Regions from separate parts of the Homo sapiens genome. Here region 2 is linked to region 1. The links come from fine-mapping of genetic effects on gene expression. Tissue or cell type: tibial artery. Region 1 holds a variant in brackets; the other region holds the start of a gene. All regions are shown on one strand. Distances are between the middles of the regions.

Region 1 (10,796 bases):
CAGGCATCCAACACGTGTCTGTTGAGTGCCTGCCACATGCCAGTGCTGTCGTGGATTATGGGGAACGCAGCAGGGGCAGAGGCAAGCCCCTGCTTCATGGCTCACACCCCAGCAATAATGATGGATTGTCGGATCAGGGCTCATGGTGTTAACAGGAGGAATAACAGCTTCAGGGGACAGGGAGTGACAGGGAACAAGGAGGGGGTGGCGTCTTCTGCGAGGTCAGTGAAGGCCCCTGACGTGGTGGTGTTTGAGCAGGGCCTGAGTGGAGGGAGCGAGCGCATGGGTTGGCGGCACCTGGGCATGTGGAATGCACTCCTCGCATCGAGGAGCAGAGGCAGCTGGTGTGATTGTGGGTGAGTGCGAGAGGCAGCAGGGGCCATGCAGAGCTTTGCAGGGTGAGATGAAGACTCTGTTTTCTCTGAGTGTGAGGGGAAGGCCCTGAAGAATCATGAGCCCAGAAGGGTCAAGAGCTGATGATCCCTGTTTGAGAGAAGCCAGTTAGGAGGCGCCTGCACCCGTGGAGGTCAGAGGTGACGGTGCTTGGCCGAAGGTGTGGCAGCAGAGGTGTTGAGAAATGGTCAGGTCCTGGGTCTCTCTAAGAACCATCAGGTTTTGTGAATTGATTGGACATAGGCTGTTAGAGAAAGAGAAAAATGAGGGTGCCTGGGCTTGGTCTAATCAGCAGAAAGCAGAGTTTCATTTTCTGAGATGGGGCCGACTTGACAAAGGGGCTTGGAAGGCAGATCGAAAGTTTGATTTTGGACATTCTGAATGTGACAGCCACATGCTAGGGTTGAGTAGCCAGGTGGAATTTAAGTCTGGAGTTCAAGGGCCACGTCTGGGCTAGAGATTGAATTTTGGGAGCCACCCTTATTTGGTTGGTATCTAAGCCACAAGGATAGATGTGACTGCCTAGGGAGAGCAAGTAGAATGAGAAGAGAGGCGACCCAAGGTCCTGAGCTGCATCTGCCCTGCAGAGGTCCGGGAGGAAGGGGCAGGCAGAGGAGGCTGAGGGGCGTCAGCAGTGAGGAAGGGGGACCTGGACTAGAGAAGGGGCCCTGGGGGATGGAGAAGATGGGTTTTAAGGATGAAGGGGTGATTCCACAGCTCAAGCAGGATGAGGCCTGAGAATCGATCCCAGTCCGTTGAATGTTTCCTTCTTGACAGGAGCAGTGCTGGGGTCAGTAGGTGAGAGCCCGGGGGAACTGAAGCAGTCGTGAGGGGCACAGGTGTGGACAGTGAGTTCAACGACTCGCTCAGGAGCTTTGTGTGAGGGGAGAGAGACAGGGCAGAGCAGCTGGAGAGGAAGGTGGGATTACCTTTGGGGTTTTTTTTCAAGAAGGAAATTACAGCATGAGTGTGCACCGACAGGAATGATCTAGATAGAACGACCAGCCATCCTGGTTTACATGGGACGCAGGAACTGCCGTTTTAAAGCTGGGCTGAGTTGGTCACCCTGGAGCCCTGGATCCGATGAGGAGAGAGAGGGTGTGTCTTTCACTTTGCTCCCTTTTTTTCTTTTTTTTCTTTTTTTTTTGAGATGGAGTCTTGCTTTGGAGTGCAGTGGTGCAATCTCGGCTCACTGCACCTCTGCCTCCCAGGTTCAAGCGATTCTTCTGCCTCAGTCTCCGGAGTAGCTGGGATTCACTTTGCTCCTTATACCAATGTCTATGTTGCTTTCCATCCACAATCTACAAAAAGCCAAAACAGGCCTCCCTTCCCTCTCTCCAAGCCCCTGTCCTTCTTGCCATCTGTAGGGGGAGTCTCTAGGTCCAGTGGCCCTCAGCGCAGATGCAGAGTGCTTCTTAGACGCTGCGGGAAAGCCAGCCCCTGCAGCACCACACCCAGATGCACCTGCAGTTTGGAGGATTCTGGTTGGATGATAAATTCCAGCTGGCAGTACATAGCCTCAGTCCCATCTGTATGCCCTCCCACAGCCTGCTTGCCACTCTGCCAGCCTCTTCCTTCACACAGGGATGCTGCTATAGAAAGGGAGGCAGAGAGTCTTAGGACAAGATGTCAGGAATGAGGCAGGATCCCCCGTTGCATCTGCCATTTTTTTCCTATAGGAGGACTCGGAGGAGAGTGAAATTGACATGGAAGATGATGATGACGAGGATGACGATTTGGAAGACGAGAGCATTTCTCTCTCACCAACCAAGCCCAATCGAAGGGTCCGGAAATCTGAACCCCTGGATGAGAGTGACAATGACTTCTGACCCTTTTGCCAAGGGACCCTGGCAGATTAAAACCCTCAGACTTGTAGGTAAATGGGAACTTAGAAGGTTAGGAAGGTAACCCCTGTTTTGTTTACTAAGCTGGCTGGACTCATGATCACTGAAGCAATACTTATTTCTGCTTTAGCCTCCTATGTTTGCATTCCATGAAGCTTAAATAAGAATTGAAGCAAATCCCTAAGATTTATTTTTTTCCACCTTATTTATCTTCTAAAACTTGAGGAATGCATGTGTTCTTAGTGATTCACATCCACGGGACAAAAACTCAAGAAGAAATAAGAGCTGACGCCACACAAGTCTTGGCTGCTTTTGTTACTATACATTTTCTCTGAGACTCCAGCAGAGTTGGGGCTGGAACTTGGCACTGGGGACTCATGTTTGGAATCGTAGGGGAACATCTGGCTGTTAATCACTTGCACAGTTGAGAACATTTCCTATACATCGGCTTTTAATTCTAGCTCTTATTTCATTTTGTAATCTTATTTTCTTTCGTCTGCATGTTCACAATACCAAGCATTAAATGTATTTTAATAACTAAACTTTTCTGAAAGAAGGTTAGCTAAAGTTAAATGAAAACTTGGTTTCTTTGAAAATCAGGCAATAGAGACAGGCTCCAGATGAGGAATCCTCCATTTTCTGTCCGAAGCTGACATTCCTCTGGCAGTCCAGTTCACCTTGGATTACAGCCACCTTCATGTTTCCACGGTTGGTACTAAATCTGGAAACTCTGGTGACCTGGGCTGCCCTCTCAGAAACTCCAGACTCCCATGGCAATGACAGCCGGGACACTTTTCTTCCCTCCAGCCAGGGTTTCTCTAAAGGAGCTTTGTTTTGTCTAAAGTGTGGCAAGACATAGTGCACAACACAGGGACAAAGGCAGGTTTCCTGCAGCTCGCTACCTAAGTGTTTCTGTAGGGGAAGGAGCCAATTAAGAAAAAGTGTTGGTACAGATTCATGTTTCTGATTTAAAAAAACAACAACACAGGATTGAATTAAGTAGAGTAATAGCACTAGAAGAATTTTTCTGTTGTGAAATTAGAAGTGGAGTTGGTTTTTTTCTTTTTTCTTCTTCTTTTTTTTTAATATGAAAAGTACTTAGCTGGGAGTGGTGGCAAGCGCCCTTGGGTCCAGCTACTCAGGAGGCCAAGGTGGGAGGATCACTTGAGCCCAGGAGTTTTAGACTAGCCTGGACAACTAAGTGAGACTCCATCTCTACAAAAAATTAAAAAATTAGCCAGGTGTGGAGGGGCATGCCTGTGGTCTCAGCTATTCAGGAGGCTGAGGCAGGAGAATCACTTGAGACCAGGAAGTTGAGGCTGCAATGAGCCGTGATCATGCCACTGCACTCCAGCCTGGGTGACAGAGTGAGACCCTGTCTTTAAAAAAAAGAAAAAGAAAAGCACGCTGCTTGTAAAAAGCGTACAGTAGGTCAGGCGTGGTGGCTCATGCCTGTAATCCTAGCACTTTGAGAGGCTGAGGTGGGTAGATCACCTGAGGTCAGGGGTTTGAGACCAGCCTGGCCAACATGGCGAAACCCCACCTCTACTAAAAATACAAAAATTAGCCGGGCGTGGTAGCGCATGCCTGTAACCCCAGCTACTGGGGAGGCTGAGGCAGGAGAATCGCTTGAACCTAGGAGGCGGAGGTTGCAGTGAGCCGAGATGGCGCCACTGCACTCCAGCCTGGGCAGCAGAGTGAGACTCCATCTCAAAAAAAAAAAAAAAAAAAAAAGCATACAGTAAATAAAAAAGCACAAAACAGTTTTCACTTATTTTACAATTAAAAAGTCAGAAGACTTCTGAAGTTACTTATCTTTTAATACATGTATTTAACACCATACTTCATATTATTAAATAGGTTTTACTTAAAAATATAATTATTGTATTTGTACCTGTCAGATATAAATACTTATTCAGGAGTTCACAGGTACGAAAAGATACACATAAATTTTAGGAACTTTTGAGTTATTTCTGTCATTTTTGCTTTTTTCTCTTTCTTTTCCTAAATTTTATGTATAAGATTACCCCTAAAAAAAAAAAAACAGCCAGTATTCAGTGAATTCACCAGTAATTTGAAATGCACCATATTGTAAATGATCCACTGACAGGGAAGCCAGCGTGTTGGAGCCATGCCAGCCACCTCAGACACCGTGGCTCTAAGATGCGGAAGAGTCACTGCATCTTCTTGAATGTTACAGATTTGGTTTGCCTGAATGTGACTTGACTTCTGTTTTGAAAAAACATACGAATAGAGTTCTATTTTCCTTATGTGATGCTTTCTTCTAACACACTTTAACACAGAAGCCTAACCTAGCTACAAAGAGCCTATCCACAGACATAGGCAACAGCTCCAAAGGGTATTTCATTGTGTCACCTGCTTCTAGATCATCTGTTAGTTAACTGACTTTGTGCAAGGTCTCACCATGTATAGCACTGCCTTGCTTGAGCACGGAAGTTTCTGTCAACAGCAAGCTTTATGTGCTCTATCATTTTTATTAAAGTATTTCAGTCAATAGTGACCCATTGTAGAATGGATGCAGGATTCACATGTGCAAGTGCTTTGTGACCTGGCACCATTTGGTTTTGGCCAAGCAGCAGAGCAGACCTCAGGACCTAACGAGGATGGTTGTGATTAGGTCAAATAGAAAACTAGCAGGCCATTGCTGACAATTTTTACTATATAATTAGAGGACTTCCTAAAATGCTTTAAAAAAAAATGTGTATGGATGGAAAATACAAAGGAATTTTTCAAATACTCAATTTTTATTGGTAGTAGTTATCAAGAACAAAGTCCTCGGACTTCTGATGGGAAATCTGAACTGCTGTTTCTCTTTTAGCGTACAAGAAGAAATAGATCCCTCTCATTAGCACTTTAATATCAGTGTCACGTGTCTGGAAGGAAATTGTATTCATTTAGGTAAGCAACACACTACATAAATATCATAGCTGTTAGACCCAGGGGACTCTCAGGTGCCAGAATTGGGGACTCCTTTAATTGGAAGGGAGCTAAAGGGTCTACCTCCTACCTAGAAGTCCTTTCTATGTGGATATGAATTAAATTCTCTTGTCTGTTTTGCTCTGATGGGGTCTGTGTGGGCTAGCTGGCTCTGGTGTGTGCCTGACGACAGACTGAACTCCTTAACCATTTCAGACAGCTTGAAGATGTATGATCATTATTTGAAAAGGGAGAGAGGGAGGACTCTTTGTTTTCTCCACCAGTTTGGCTCCTGAGGTTTCTTCAGCGTTAGGTTTCTGTAGGGCCCAGCTTTCTCCAGTGTTTGGCTACTGCAACTCTGTGTTCTGCCAGTCTCTTAACTCAGACAGAAACAATGCAAACCAGCAGACAGAGCATCACCTTGAAAGTACTAAAACAGCTGTCAATCTAGAAATCTCTGCCCCGCAAAAACTGTCATAAATACTGCAAGACCCATGTTCAGATTTCCCCCCTTTTACAAATAATGTTTTGTTTTATTTCCCAGCTACTACAAGTGATCCAAATGTTCTTTATAGCAGACTTTTTCCTGCAGTCTAGGATCCAGTCAGAGATCTTGCATTAA[A/G]TTATATCTCTGTAATCTTTAATTTCACGCTATCTGCAATGTTTTGTGTTTTTCATGACATTGATGTTTTTGATGAGGTCAGGCCATTTATTCTGCAGAATATCTGTCAATTTGGATTTTTTCTAATTGTTCTTTCATGATTAGAATCAGGCAAACATTTTTTGACAAGAATACATCAGAGACGACTCCGTGGTGCATCAGACTGGGGGCATGTGATGTCTGTGTGTCCCATTATTGGCGATGTTCAATTCTGTCACTTCTGTTGAGGCTGCATTTGCCAGATTTCAGATTAAGGTACCTTTTTCCCTTTGTAAATTAGGATATCACCTTTGTGGGGTGCCGTTTTGAGACTGCAAGGATATCATCTTCCCGAGTAGGCCTTCATCCATGGCCTCAGCATCCATGATGGTTCCTGTCCGGATGCTCACTTTTGAAGAAACATTTCAAATAATAGTGATTCCTTTCCAATTCAAAAGTAATCATTGCTTTATAGTCTTCATAAATATTTTCTGTGGTTATTTAGTTGATGAAAGCTGTTGATGTCCATTTGGATTTTTTTCCCTCCAACACAAACAGCTGCAGGAATTGGTGCCACATAGAGGCTCAGCTTGCCTGTCTCCATGGAAGCTGTGGCCACAGCAGTGGCTTTGGAAGCCTAGTAAGGAATGACATCACTGCCAGGTGCAGTGGCTCACACCTGTAATCCCAGCACTTTGGGAGGCTGAGGTGGGTGGATCACTTGAGGTCAGGAGTTAAAGACCAGCCTGATCAACATGGTGAAACCCCATCTCTACTAAAAATACAAAAATTAGCTGGGTGTGGTGGTGCGTGCCTGTAGACCCAACTACTTGGGAGGCCGAGGCAGGAGAATCACTGGAACCCATGAGGTAGAGCCTACAGTGAGCTGAGATCATGCCACTGCACTCCAGCCTGGGTGACAGATTCTGTCTCAAAAATAAATAAAGAATGACATCACTGAATACACTGAATGTGCTATTGATAACCAGTGTGCCAGACTCCAGACAACATGTGCCAGGCATCACCCATGTCTTTGATTTTGTAATAAATAAAAAATGGGGCCAGGTGTGGTGGCTCATGCCTGTAATCCCAGTACTTTGGGAGGCCCAGGCTGATGGATCACCTGAGGTCAGGAGTTCGAGACCAGCCTGGCCAACATGATGAAACCCCGTCTCTACTAAAACTACAAAAATTAGCCGGGCATGGTGGCGGGTGCCTGTATTCCCAGCTACTGGGGAGGCTGAGGCAGGAGAATCACATGAACCCGGGAGGCGGAGGTTGCAGGGAGCTGAGATCGTGCCACTGCACTCCAGCCTGGGCGACAAGAGCGAGACTCCATCTCAAAAACAAACAAAAAAGGCAAAATCCTTGGAGAACTCTTACTGTCTCTGTTTCCAGAATCCTAGAATTAAAACTTTCATTTATCTTCACAATTTTCCCATAGCTTTTTCATGTCTGTAAGGATGATACCCTGAAATCTTCTTCTTGAGAAGATAAAGAAGGGTCCCCTCTGTTACCCCTACCAAACGGATGCTCCTCACGGGCTTGAGGTGGCAGCTCATCTCAGAGCATGGGATGATTTTTAACCAGGTGAGTGGAAAGGGGCAGTAATAAACATTTTTAAAGGTTGGGGACACATGAAGTCCTCAGGGTGTAAAGCTGGAACCAGCCTCCTGTACTGCTCAGCTTTCAGGCCTTTGGCCCCTAGTCCCTTGGGGGTGGCCCCTCCCTTCTCTGTGCCATAACAGAGTACCCGTCACCCCCTGCCTGGACCACTCCTGCAGCAGAAGAGGAGCTCACGACCTCCTCCGGCAGCACCTCTCCTTCCTCCCTGCAGAGCCCGGCTCTCGTGCTGAGCAAGCAGCGTTCCCAGCTCCCAGACAGGCCCCCCAGAAGTCGGCCTTTCTGTTCAAAAGCTTCCAGCTGAGCATCTGCCCATTCTCCTGATCCGTCCACCAGGATCACATTTCAACAGTGCACGTGGGAGCATTTGTCTTGATGGCCTCTGAGATCATCCTGGCCCCGGAGTCCCCAATGTGGTTTCCCTGGAGACTAGAAGAGTAGGGTTAAGGCAGGGCTCAAAGCCTGCAGGTTCTCTTTAGTAGAGCAGGCCATACAATAGAAAATGCAGGACCCCATGCAAAGCCTTTGTGCTTCTAGGATCCCCTCGCTACATGGACAAGGCTCAGGGTACCTCCCCTTAGACCAGGTTTCCCTATAGGCCTGCTGAAGCGTCTGGGGGTCAGCTGGCTCTCAGAACTGGGCAAAAGGCAGTGCGCCACCTGGAAGCAGTTCTAAGGGTGAGCAGGAAGGGCAGGTGCACTCACTTGATATGCTGGAGCCTGTGGTTTCCAGACAGTGCTGTGGCAATGCATATCGCCCCGTCCATCCCCAGAGAATTCTCTTGAAGACTAAGTGGAAAAGAGATGGAGACACACGGTGAGCCATCAGGGCAGAAGGAAAACACCCGGGGAAGCAACAGTGCATTGTCTGGGGGCAGTAACCCAGGCAGATGTGTCCACAGGTGCCATGGCAACTCCAGGTGGGAGTTGACCCTGGAGACAGGTGTCTACGAGTGGCCAGATTGTCCCACGCAAGTGCGCTGGAGGATGTAAGGCCATAAATGCAAGATGTGAGTGACTTCTGACTGAAGCTAAGCACACTCAACAAACCCAGCTGCAGTGGAATGTGGACTATAATAAGTCTGATTGTTTATATTCAGAAGGAAATAGCTACAGAAGAAATCAGGAGCATTTTATTCCATCAGGGAGGACCCAGCAGAGAACTCTGCTGCTCCAGGATGCAGGTAGGTCCCTCCAGCCACTTACTTGAGTCTCCGGAGACTTGAGTTTACCTTCAGAGCATTTGCCAGGGCTTTGGCTCCAGCCACCCCAATGGCATTTCCTCTTAAGCTGTTGGGAAAGACAGGAAGCCTAAGGCATGGGTACAGGCTGAGAGGTGATACTGACCCCTCTGCGGGTGGGCTTGGGGCTGCTTGGTAGAGGAAACAAGGACTTCAGCAGTCACAGGAGGCCAGGGCTGTGCCTTCCTCACTCCAGGGCAACAGGGCAGAGCTGGCTCTGGGAAGCAGGGCACACAGGGGCATGGCTGGCCTAGCCAGGAGGGTTGTTGGAGCCTTCCTCCTCTTCCATTTCAAACAGAAAAGCGGGGCTGAGACAGGAGAGGCAGCCCTCCATCTGGGCAGGTCCCCAGTGCTCCCAGCAAGGGCAGGAATTCTGAGGACATGCCTGAGCCTCAGAGCTGTAACCTCACCCCAGGACTTTGGATCTGCCCAGAGAACAAGATCAGCCCCCCTGGGACCCATAAACCAGGCCTCTAGACGTGTTCAGCCTGGCAAGGCCAACCCGGAGAGGAGGGCAAATGATAGCGACTCCCAGGGAAAGGCATGAAGTGGGGCTGGGAAACTGGTATACTTGCACTGAAATGAAGATCACCAGGATGATTTGTGAGTTGTCTGTAAACTTTGTCCCCATATCTATTCATTGAGAATTCATTGATTTCTTTGGGCTAAAGACCATAGATGGAGACTGGAATACTTACTCGAGAATCTCCAAGGTTCTGTTCACAGCCAAGGCTTCCCCTAGCACCTGGGCGCCTGAAGCACCAATTGAGGCCACCTGGAGACTGGGGCGGAGAGGGTGCCGTCAGTGTGAGCCGGCTGGGCCCACCTCCCTCCGCATACTCCGTTCCCTTTCACCACCCCTTGACTCAGGATGGAAAGTGGAGAAACAGCACTGAGAATGGTTGGCCAGCGCTGTGTCTAGGCACTCCATCTCCTACCTACACTGTCTGTTGCCTAAGACAGAGATCTGGATGCTAAGGAGATGAGAAATAGAGGCTGTCCCTGGAAGGGCTCGGGGAGAATGCTCCCTGTACCTCCTCATTACTACTCTCTAGGTGTTTGAGCCCCCAACTGCTAATATCATATTTCCTATATTAGGAAAATCAAACACACCTTCCTTGACTTGTAAACAAAAATAACGTCCAGGCCAGGTGTGGTGGCTCACACCTGTAATCCCAGCACTTTGGGAGGCTGAGGTGGGCAGATCACCTGAAGTCAGGAGTTTGAGACCAGCCTGGCCAATATGGTGAAACCCCGTCTCTACTAAAAATACAAAAATTAGGCTGGGTGTGGTGGTGCACGCCTGTTATCCCAACTACTGTATGGGAGGCTGAGGCTTGAGAATCACTTGAACCCAGGAGGTGGAGGTTACAGTTAGCTGAGATTATGTCACTGCACTCCAGCCTGGGTGGCAGAGCAAGACTCTTGTCTCGAGGAAAAAAAAAAAAAAAAAGACCTCTAACGTGAAAGGATGGCGAAGGGACCGGTTTCCTGACTGCTGCGCACATCTAGGACTTACTAGAGAGCAGTGAGGGCTGTGTTGACCTTCAGTGCACGGGCCACCGCACACGCTCCGTCATCCCCGATGGCGTTCTCCTGTAAACTAGACACAGAGTATGACCCCTTTGGGTGCACGGGGCACAGGGAGCATTCTAGCAAGGCCCTGCCGCACTTGGACCTGCCAGGTTTAACCGACTACACACACCATAGACACTCCCAGGGTTTCCTGGGGATAACTGCCCTTCCTCCACAGGCCCTGCAGCCCGCCGCCTCATACTAAGCACACAGAGGCGTCTGGGGCCTGCATGAGTCTGAACCGCCAGAGGCAAGCAGGAAATGGGACATATAGAGTGACTGTCAGCAGGGGCTTGGGACCCAAAAGGGGATGCTTTTCACAGCCAACCAGAAAATGAACTTAAAGCCCTCAATCCCTGAGCCATTCTTGTTTGTCTTGTTTTCTCTTGAGACAGGGTCTCACTCTGCCACCCAGGCTGGAATGCAGTGGTGAGATCACGGCTCACTGCAGCCTCAACCTCCCAGGCTCAAGCGATCCTCCCACCTCAGCCTCCCGAGGAGACTAAAGTACTTAACTAGAGACGGGGACTACAGGCACATGCCC
Region 2 (10,104 bases), 37 kb after region 1:
TATTCCATATATGTAAAAAATGTGTGGGCTAGCACAAGAATAGATACATAAGTCAACAGAATAGGATATAGAGGCCAGGAACAAATATATATTTATAATATCTACACATTAAGGAGTTTGGTAACATGACAAAAATAGCATTTCAAATCAGTGAAAATGGCATTGGGGCAATTGACCAGCCTATGAAAAATATTTTCCAGCTGTAATTCACATTAAACACAAAATTTATTTTCAGGTCAATTAAGGAGTTAAAAGTTGTAAACACAAAACCATAAAAGCACAATAAGAAAATATGAGATAATATTTTAAAATATTATTTAGGTAAAGGTTTTTTACAGTGAGACGTAAAACTCAGAAGTGTCAGCCTGGGCAACATAGTGACACACCATCTCTACAAAAAAAAAAAAATAGATGGGGCTGGTGGTGGGCACCTGTGGAACTAGCTATGGGGAGGCTGAGGTAGGAGGACCCCTTGAGCTCAGGAGGCTGAGGCTGCAGTGAGCTATGATTGTGCCACTGCAATCCAGCTTGGGTGACAGAGCAAGACCCTGGCTTTAAAAAAAAAAAAAAAAAGCAGAATTCATGAAGAGGGAGACTAGTAAATTTGTCTTAATTGAATTAAAATATTAAATAATTAAATATTTAGTTTGATATTAAATAATTAAAATATTTGCCAGGCGTGGTGGCTCACGCCTGTAATCCCAGCACTTTGGGAGGCTGAGGCGGGTGGATCACAAGGTCAAGAGATCAAGACCAGCCTGGCCAACATGGTGAAACCCCATCTCTACTAAAAATACAAAAATTAGCTGGGCGTGGTGGCACGTGCCTGTAGTCCCGGCTACTCGGGAGGCTGAGGCAGGAGAATCGCTTGAACCCGGGAGGCAGAGGTTGCAGTGAGCCAAGATGGCGCCACTGCACTCCAGCCTGGGTGACAGAGCGAGACTCCATCTCAAAAAATAATAATAATAATTAAAATATTTATAAGTAATAATAGATGCCATAAAGTTGAAAGAAAAACTATAAGCCAGGAGTCAACATTTGCAACATACATGGAAAAATATGAATATCCTTAATATATAAAGAACTTATAAATCAATAATAAGTAACCAAACAGAATTATGAACCCCAAATGAAATAGAAAAAAGGACACAGATAATTCATAGAAGTATAAATGACCAAGATATTGAAAAGATGCTCAGTGTCACTAAGGATCAAGAAAAAAGCAAAAGAATAAACTATCATTTTTCATACGTCTCATTGGTGAATATTATAACATAACAGACTGCATTGGTGAGAACATGGAGGTAGTGGGAAATTTTTTTTTTTTTTGAGACAGGATCTCACTGTGTCACCCAGGCTGGAGTGCAGTGGCATGATCAGGGTTCACTGCAGCCTCAACTTCCCTGGGCTCAAGTGATCCTCCAAAGTAGCTGGGACTACAGGCGCATGCTACCACATCCAGCTAATTTTTGTATTTTTTGTAGAGACAGGGTCTTGCCATGTTGCCTAGGCTGGTCTCCAACTTCTGGGGTCAAGCAATCTTCCCACCTTGGCCTCCCAAAGTGCTGGAATTATTGGCATGAGCCACTGTGCCAGGCCTGTAGTGGGAATCTTAATTCATAGTGGGTGGAAGTATAAATTAGTATAACAATTCTGGATTATAATAACCATTATCTGTTGTCATTAAATATCTTTTGTCCTAGAAATTCCACTTCTGGGAATTTATCCTAAAGAAATATGTGGGCCAGGCGCGGTGACTCACACCTGTAATCCTAGCACTTTGGGAGGCCAAGGCAGGCAGATCATCTGAGGTCAGGGGTTCGAGACCAGTCTGGCCAACATGGTGAAACCCCGTCTCTACTAAAAATACAAAAATTAGCTGGGCATGGTGGTGGGTGACCGTAATCCCAGCTACTCAGGAGGCTGAGGCAGGGAATTGCTTGAACCCAGGAGGTGGAGGTTGCAGTGAGCCGAGATGGTGCCACTGCACTCTAGCCTGGGCGATAGAGCAAGACTCTATCTCAAAAAAAAAAAAAAAAAAAAATCAAATATCTAGGAATAAATCTAGCAAAATTTGCAAGACCTCTATACTGAAAACTATAAAACATTACTGAGAGAAATTAAAAAACATCAAAAGGAGGGATGGAGGCTGGGCACCATGGCTCACCCCTGTAATCCCAGCACTTTAGGAGGCCAAGGTGGGTGGATTGCTTGAGCCCGGGAGTTTGAGACCAGCCTGAGCAACATGGGCAAAACCCTGTCTCTATAAAAAGTACAAAAAAAAAAAAATTAGCTGAGCACGGTGGCGCATGCCTGTAATCCCAGCTACTCAAGGAAGCTGAGGTGGGAGGATCGCTTAACTCCCGCCGTCAAGGCTGCAGTTAGCTGAGATCTCACTACTCCACTCCAGCCTGAGTGATAGAGCAAGACCCTGTCTCACACACACACACAAAAGCTAGCAATTATCTAAACATTCAAAGGTATGTCAGCCCAAATGAAGCAGTGCTACTGTCTGCCTGATATGCCAGAGGCCAGGATACGGGGTCCTCTGTCCTTCACTGTGTGACATTAGGGTGTGGCCCAGGTGGACACAGCCTCCTGTTGTTGGATGTCCATGTGCACCCACCAGGTGACCAGCCCTGCTGCTGGGGGCGGGAGTGGCCAGGAGGATGAGAGGACTGCGTGGAAGAAGTCTCAGCTCTGGTAGGGCATCATTTGGGGTCTTATTGATTGATTGATTTAAAATTTTGGTAAAATACACATAACACAAAATTTACCATTTTAACCATTTTAAAAATAATTTTCCTTAAAAAATAGAGGCAGGGTCTTGCTTTGTCGCTAAAAAATAAAGACAGGGTCCTGCTTTGTTGCCCAGGCTGGAGTGCAGTGGTACGATCTTGGCTCACTGCAGCCTCGACCTCCTGGGCTCAAGTGATTCTCCCACCTCAGCCTCCCAAGTAGCTGGGATTACAGGTACAGGTGAGGACCACCATGCTTGGCCCATTGTAACCATTTTATCTTTTTTTTTTTTTTTTTTTTTTTTTTTTTTTTTGAGATAGAGTCTCACTCTGTTGCCTAGGCTGGAGTGTCGTGGCACTATCTCGTCTCACTGCAACCTCTGCCTCCTGGGTTCAAGTGATTCTCCCGCCTCAGGGTCCTCAGTAACTGGGATTATAGGCACCCACCATCAATACCATTTGTATTTTTGTAGAGACAGGGTTTCACCATGTTGGCCAGGCTGGTCTTGAACTCCTGACCTCCAAAAGTGCTGGGATTACAGGTGTGAACCACTGCGCCCGGCCTTGTGGAGCACGGCTTTTAAATAACCAACGCTCGGCCTGACCACCCAGAGATTTGATTGGTCTGGCAAGGGCCCCCACGTGGATCTAGTTTAAGCTCCTCCGGTGGTTCTAACCAGAGTTGAGAACCACGGGACCCGAGCGGGGCTGGGAGAGGAATGAGGGAGGGACAGTGCTGGCAGGAGTGAGGGGTTGGGGCGAGGCAGGACTCACAAGCGCCTGGGAAGGCGGGGACGGGGTGTAGGGGGCTGGCAAGCACCCCTGCCTCTGTGGCCTCATTAGTCTCTCAGTATTGGGAGTCAGCACTCCCTCCTGATCAGACACCCATCTTTGTGGCCCCATGACCTTGGGTCCAGGGTTGCCAGATTCAGCAAATTAAAATACAAGACAAACCTGGGCACAGTGGCTCATGCCTGTAATCCTAGCACTTTGGGAGGCTGAGGTGGGCAGATCACCTTGAGGTCAGGAGTTCAAGACCAGCCTGACCAACATGGCGAAACCCCATCTCTACGAAAAATACAAACATTAGCTGGGCGTGGTGGTGGATGTCTGTAGTCCCAGCTACTCTGGAGGCTGAGGCAGGAGAATCGCCTGAACTCAGGAGGTGGAGGCTGCAGTGAGCCAAGATCACGCCACTGCACTCCAGCCTGGGTGACAGAGCGAGACTGTCTCAAAAAATAATGATAAAATATGAGATATCCACAGATAATTAAATTTCAGATAAACGACATATAATTTTTAGTATAAGCATAGCTTATGTCATACTGGAGACATACCAAAGAAATGGATTATTTGAAATTCACATTTGACCAAGTGTCCTGTATCTGATCTGGCATCCCTGCTCAGGCCCCATTCAGACGAAACGTGGCTTTCATCCTGGACACTGTCCCTAAGAAGGACAGAGGAGGGGGTGCAGGTGAACCAACCCCCCTGCCATTGCCAGCACCTCCCAGGACCAGCCCCAAAGGCTGATGGGGGCTGGTTACCTGGCTGCCACCGCTGCCAGGCCCTGCACGCAGCCCTAACATCCCCCTGGCAGGCTGGAGCCTTCCACAGACCTCTCAGCCGAGTGAGGTCGCGAGGCCGCAGACGCCACTATGGATGGTCAGGCGGCCCCTGTGAGCGCAGCTGAAAGACAGAGAGACTGAGGACAGGTGGGACTCGGGTTGCTTTGGGGGATCTGAAGGCCAGAGGTCGCTCCACAGCTGGTTTGAGCTGCTGCGAGCAGGGCGAGGCCAGAGGGACGAGTAGGTGCCACTGCTGCCTCCTCCCCGGGAGCCTCCCAGGTAGCACCAGGTTTCACCCCTAGAGCTTTGTCTGTGAGCGAAGGTGAACCTGAGGCCTTCCTGGTGTGGTGTGGGCTCAAGCCCAGTTCCTCAGGCTCAGCAAGTGGCCTGCTGCCTCATTCCTGAGAAGCCTCAGTCCCGACGGACTAGCCGCCTCTGCCCATCACCCGCCCACCTGATCTGTGCCTCAGTCCTTGCCGGGACCTGCTGGGTCCTTCCCTGCCACTTGGCGCCCGGGTGGGACTTCCCAGTGCTGGCTGCCTACCTGGGCTGCCAGTATCTCCCACCACGGCTGCTTGGATGCTCCTCTCTTCCCACATCCTGCCCCTGCCCCCTCCCAGGGCCTTGGAATTCAGGACTCGGTTCTCTCGAGGTGGCCCCAGCATCATCACTTGAGCTCAAAAGCCTTCCCGAAGGAAGAAGGAAGTGGCACCTGCACCTCAGGGCCCTACCCTGCTCACTGCATGGACCCCTGGAGTCCAAGGGGTGGAGAGGCCCAGCCCTGGGGAGCCCAGCACCCTGGGACAGAAGAAGAGGGGTGCAGCCTGCAGCCTGTGATGGCCAACAGTGAGCCCCAGGCTCAGGGTCACCTCCAGGGAGGGGTCCAGAAAAACACCAGGGCCTCTGGAGCCTGGCCATAGGGGAAGACCCTGCAGCCAACACCCAGGCTGGCCCAGGGCAGTGGCACTTCTTCCGAGAAGGCCTCTGCGGTTGCCGTCTCTCTCGACCCTTGTCTCACCCAAGGCTGTGGGCAGGAGAGGCCCTGGGGCTGCCCACTCGCCTGGGGGCGGCGCCTGCACCCTCCCTGCCCCTCATGACCTCGCCCCTCCTGTGCTGTCACCTCCATCTACAGGTGGGGTGCTGAGGCCCAGAGAAGTAGCCTCCCATGGGGGGTCCCAGTGCCAGGAAGGGTGCCCAGGTCTGCCGATTCCCCAGGCCGTGGCTCAGCATCACCACTGCCTGCCCGCAGCACCTTCAAGATGCTTCCTGCTTCTCCTGGGCCATCACTGGTACCTGGGGGAGCTGGGTTTTGTCCCTGGGACCTGTCCTGGGCCATTCTTAGTTACCTGTTTTTTCTTTTCTTTTTTGTTTTGTTTTGTTTTGTTTTGGAGACAGTCTCGCTTTGTCACCCAGGATTGAGTGCAGTGGCTCGATCTCGGCTCACTGCAACCTACGCCTCCCGGGTTCAAGCGGTTCTCCTGCCTCAGCCTCCCGACTAGCTGGGTGGGATTACAGGCGTCTGCCAACATGCCTGGCTAATTTATTTTTTATTTTTAGTAGAGATGGGGTTTCACCATGTTGGCCAGGCTAGTCTCAAAGTCCTGACCTCAAGTGATCCGCCCACCTTGGCCTCCCAAAGTGTTGGGATTACAGGCGTGAGCCACCGTGCCTGGCCACATCTCTTTTTTCTACAGCATGAGCCAGTCCTGCCCCAGGAGACAGCTTCTTGGAGTCTCGTGGAGTCTCCCCAGTCCCCCTCCCCAGAGTAGCTCAGGCCTTAAGGCCACTGTCCTTCCTGCCAGCATCCCTTCTCCCTCCCCTGCCCTGCACTGAGGTCACCTGGACCCAACTTACCTCCCGGGCCTCGATGCTGCTCCAGGGACAGCAAGACTGGGGGGCCTGGGGGCGTCCATCTCCATGCTCCTGGGCTCAGCCCTGCTCCAGCTGCGTGGTGGTAGATGCCCTGGGAATCCCTGTGCCAGCCTGAGTTCTCAGGACCAGGGATCAGGGCACTTACCACGCCAACCAACCAACCGTGTGGGGGCCGAGAGCAGTGCAGCCCCGACCTTCTGCAGCCCCACCGAGCCCACCGGCTGTCCCTGTGGCTCCGGGTCCTCACCTCTTCCTGTGCTGGGCTCCACCTCATTCTTCCTTCCTGTCTGATTTCAACAGCCAACAGCCTCGCAGACACATCGAGGAGCCGGGGCACCCTGGCTTGGTCACCGCCCCCGTGCAAGTTAAGTGCGGGGGCGATGCTGGGGGTCTTGACTCTGGGATTAAGTGTCCCTGCAGGTGGCATGCTCAGGATAAAGTGGCTGGTGCCAAGGCTGTTGACACATCACCTCCATCCCGCCACAAAGGAAGCTGCCCCGCCATCAACAAATGCTTGTTTTCAGGCGGGTGGTCAGGAAATCAAGTGAGCAGCCTGAGGTCACGCAACTAGAGGGTGACCCCAGCAGGACTGGACTGTGCCCTGCCACCTCCAGGCCACCCCTGTGGCTCTCCTTATTTATTTATTTAATTTATTTATTTGAGACAGAGTCTCGCTCTGTTGCCCAGGCTGGAGTGCAATGGCACGATCTCGGCTCACTGCAACCTCCCCCTCCCAGGTTCAAGAGATTCTCCTGCCTCAGCCTCCTGAGTAGCTGGGATTACGGGCATGCGCCACCATGCCCCGCTAATTTTTGTATTTTTAGCAGAGGAGGGGCTTTGCCATGTTGGCCAGGCTGGTCTTGAACGCCTGACCTCAGGTGATCCACCCACCTTGGCTTCCCAAAGGGGTGGGATTACAGGCGTGAGCCACTGCGCCCAGCCTATTTATTTTTTGAGACAGGATCTTGCTCTGTCACCCAGACTGGAGTGCAGTGGTGTGATCTCGGCTCACTGTAGCCTCTACCTCCTGGGGCTCAAGTGATCCTCCTGCCTTGGCCTCCCAAAACACGGAGATAACAGGTGTGAGCCACTGTGCTCCCTCTTTTAACACCTCTTGCTTTCTTTTCTCTCTGTCACCCAGTAGGCACCTCTGACTCAGCTGTGCCCCATAACATCTTCCTGTGAGCAAAGGGCTCCCCAGAGGCAGGTCACCTGTACCCTAAGAGGAAACAGCAGAATGTTGCCGTCCGCGGCAGGAGATCGCACTCGGCCCCTGGAAGTGGACCTCAGTGGGTGGCCTGCCCTGACAGGGAAGGGCGTGAGGGGGAAGGACATGGCCCAGAGCAAGCCACATGAGAAAAATTACAATAAAGTATGGGACATCCGCTGGGGACAGGGAGCAAGCAACATGGGGCCACTGAGGGAAGGAGGTGACAAGGTGGGAGCCAAGGGACAGGGGTCCTGGGGTCTGAATTTTCCTCAGCAAGCAAGTGGGAGCCAGCAATGGTTGTAGAGCAGGAGAGTAGTGGGTCTGGACTCATAGAGCAGCTTGTGGCTCAGGGGAGGTAGGAGGGTTAGCTGGTTCCCCAGAGCCTGTGTGGGTGATGGGGGGGAGGGAACTGAGGCAGCAGACCAGAAGTGCTCCTGCACATTCCCCTGCCTGCCTACCTTCTTTTGTCCCTCCTTCCTCTCCCTCCCTCCCAACAATGCTTTCTGAGCACCCAGGAACCTGCTGGGTGCTGGGAGGACACGATGGACCCTCGAGAAGGCTGCCCGAGGCTCCAGGCAGGCAGAGTGCAGACCCAGCAGCTGCAGCCTCGGCTGTGGGGAGCAACAAAGGCGCCTGAAACCAGGCCGCCCACAGGATGTTGGAAACCACAGGGCCCGGTGGGTATCCGTCACATAAAAGGGGCCAGAGGCTCACACTGCCTCCCTTTGTGGCTCAGGGGGATGGATGCGGAGCCTGAGAGGACACAGCCTCATCCACGGGATCTTGGGGAGCAGCCCAACCCAGCCCAGCCCAGCCCCGCCCCGCCCCGCCCCGCCCGTTCCTCCCCCTCGCAGGAATGTCCATCAGTCCACACAGGGCTGGTCCCATTCCCCACTCTGCCCGCTCTGCTGAGAACCAGGTGGGCCGTCCTCCTGGCTCCTGGTGGAGGTGGGGGTGCTGGGCTGGGGGCTCCCTAACTGTTCTCACTCTGGGGCTTTCTGTCCACCCAGAGCTGGGGTCAGCCAGACAGGAAGCGACCTCAGCCCTTCCTAACTCAGCAACAGCGCAAGGCCCCTGCCTGCAGGCTCTTTCTTTGTAAGTGCCCTTGCCTGGGCCCAGGCTGGGGTGTGGCTCCCCTGTGACTGCCTTGAGGGGCTGTGCCCAAGCCATGCCAGGTTGGGGCCACCAAAAGTGGGACAGGCCTGGAGGCCTGTTCATATTACAGTGAGGCATAGACAGACCCGTTTTCTGATTTAGTTGTTACCAGTGAAAGTTCTGCTGCCAGTCTTTTATTCTCCCCCTTTAGAAATGTTTTTAATATTGTTTTCAAAATAGAGACTTGGCCTTACTATGTTGCCCAGGCTGGTCTCAAACTCCTGGGCTCAAGTGATCCTCCTGCCTTGGCCTCCCAAAGCACTGGGATTACATGTGGGAGCCACCGCACCCGGCATGCCAGCTTCCTTCTCAGTCACTCCTGGAAGGTAACTCTCTCTCGCCTTGTCCATGAAGAGGCCCCATTGCCTGCCAGTCTTGCTGCAGGCGCTGTGAGAAGGCATTTTCCATCTGTCAACTGGACCTAGTTTTATGTTGCCCGGGTCAGCGTCATCCCTGTAGCAGGGGCCAGGTCTACTCCTGGATGCCACCACGCCTCTGTGGGTTCCTGCAGTGACTCCTTCAACCCTTTCCCTCTGGAGGAATCAGCTGCTTCACAGCTTGTTTCAGGACAAGGAAATGCTGCTTTGTACAGGTTCAGGGCCAGCATCCAGTCCCCTGGCTGGGTGGCAGTGCATAAACCAAGCCTCTGCCCAGCGCTGTCAGCCCAGGGAGCGTCCAGCAGCCCCAACTGAATCCAAGGTCACCACAAGGCTCGAATCCAGTCCCCAGGCCATGCCTCCCCTGGCCTTGGGCTCACACTGCACTCAAGGCTCCTAACCCAGCTTGTTAACTACTTGGAACCCCTCCCCCAACCCATCTTTACCAGCCTTGAAGTTCTGAACTTTCAAGTCATGGCACATAACACATACTTCCCCAAACCACAAACCCTGCGAGGCCGGACAGGGGCCCCGAGTCCCCCACCTGCACCACTCCCTCTCGCTTCCCTAACACCAGGGAGGGGGATCAGCCCATCAAGGAAGCAGTGCGTGATGCCTTCCGAAACAGGCCAGAGGCCAGCCTCAGATTGATCACAGCTGATCTCAGCCTCTCAAATTGTTCGCCCCGGGCACCGTAAGCTGGGAGGCCTGGGCCTCTCCGCTGGTTCACGTGCCAGGACATAGTATGTGCGCCAGAAATCACATTTCACCCCCTAAATGCTGCTGAGCCCTAAGATGCAGCTCACAAACCCCTCTTCTGGGAGGCTGTCCCTGACACGGCCCTTCAAGCCACTGGAGCCCGACTCCCCACCAGGCTGGGATAGGCCAGCGTCTGTCTCCTCCACTGGACCGGACGCAATGGTAAAGGCATGTGCTGTCTTGGTGAGTTGTGGGGTGGGGCCTGAATCTGCTTTTGTAGCAACTCCCGGCTGAGGCAGCAGCTGGGGGTGCTTGGGCCCCACTTTGAGGTGCGGGGGCTGGAGCTTGGCACCCAGCCAGGGCTCTGTTGGATACGGGTGTGTGGATTAATGGATGAACATCTGCATCTCTGGTCTGGGAACTGAAATGAGGAGACAGCAGGCCCAGGTTACTCCAAAGTAAAGGGCAGGTGCAAGGTGGGGACT

The links. PIP is the estimated chance that this variant, and not a neighbour inherited with it, causes the effect.
Region 2: it holds the start of NLRC3, and the variant in region 1 is fine-mapped to the expression of NLRC3 in tibial artery (GTEx, PIP above 0.99). The same link has a PIP of 0.9 or more in amygdala, anterior cingulate cortex, aorta, atrial appendage, caudate and cerebellar hemisphere.

The regions. Positions count from the first base shown.
Region 1 is chr16:3,534,050-3,544,845 of GRCh38, forward strand. CLUAP1 (clusterin associated protein 1) reads left to right here. Exons shown (of 12, transcript NM_015041.3): 12 at 2,073-4,999. The coding sequence ends at 2,222. It overlaps NLRC3 (NLR family CARD domain containing 3), which reads right to left. Exons shown (of 20, transcript NM_178844.4): 16 at 10,197-10,280; 17 at 9,376-9,459; 18 at 8,643-8,726; 19 at 8,142-8,225; 20 at 4,984-7,866. The coding sequence ends at 7,776. LOC101929732 (a long non-coding RNA gene) reads left to right here and starts at 7,860. Exons shown (of 4, transcript XR_007064953.1): 1 at 7,860-8,253; 2 at 8,339-10,796. RefSeq lists an enhancer at 10,374-10,796. The variant A/G (reference allele first, on the strand shown) is at 5,797.
Region 2 is chr16:3,570,989-3,581,092 of GRCh38, forward strand. NLRC3 (NLR family CARD domain containing 3) reads right to left here and starts at 6,415. Exons shown (of 20, transcript NM_178844.4): 1 at 6,161-6,415. It overlaps LOC105371060 (a long non-coding RNA gene), which reads left to right and starts at 6,515. Exons shown (of 2, transcript XR_001752061.3): 1 at 6,515-8,065; 2 at 8,399-10,104. It overlaps LOC124903632 (a long non-coding RNA gene), which reads left to right. Exons shown (of 2, transcript XR_007064955.1): 2 at 1-1,250. RefSeq lists enhancers at 7,499-7,548, 7,579-7,758, 9,660-10,104 and a silencer at 8,199-8,298.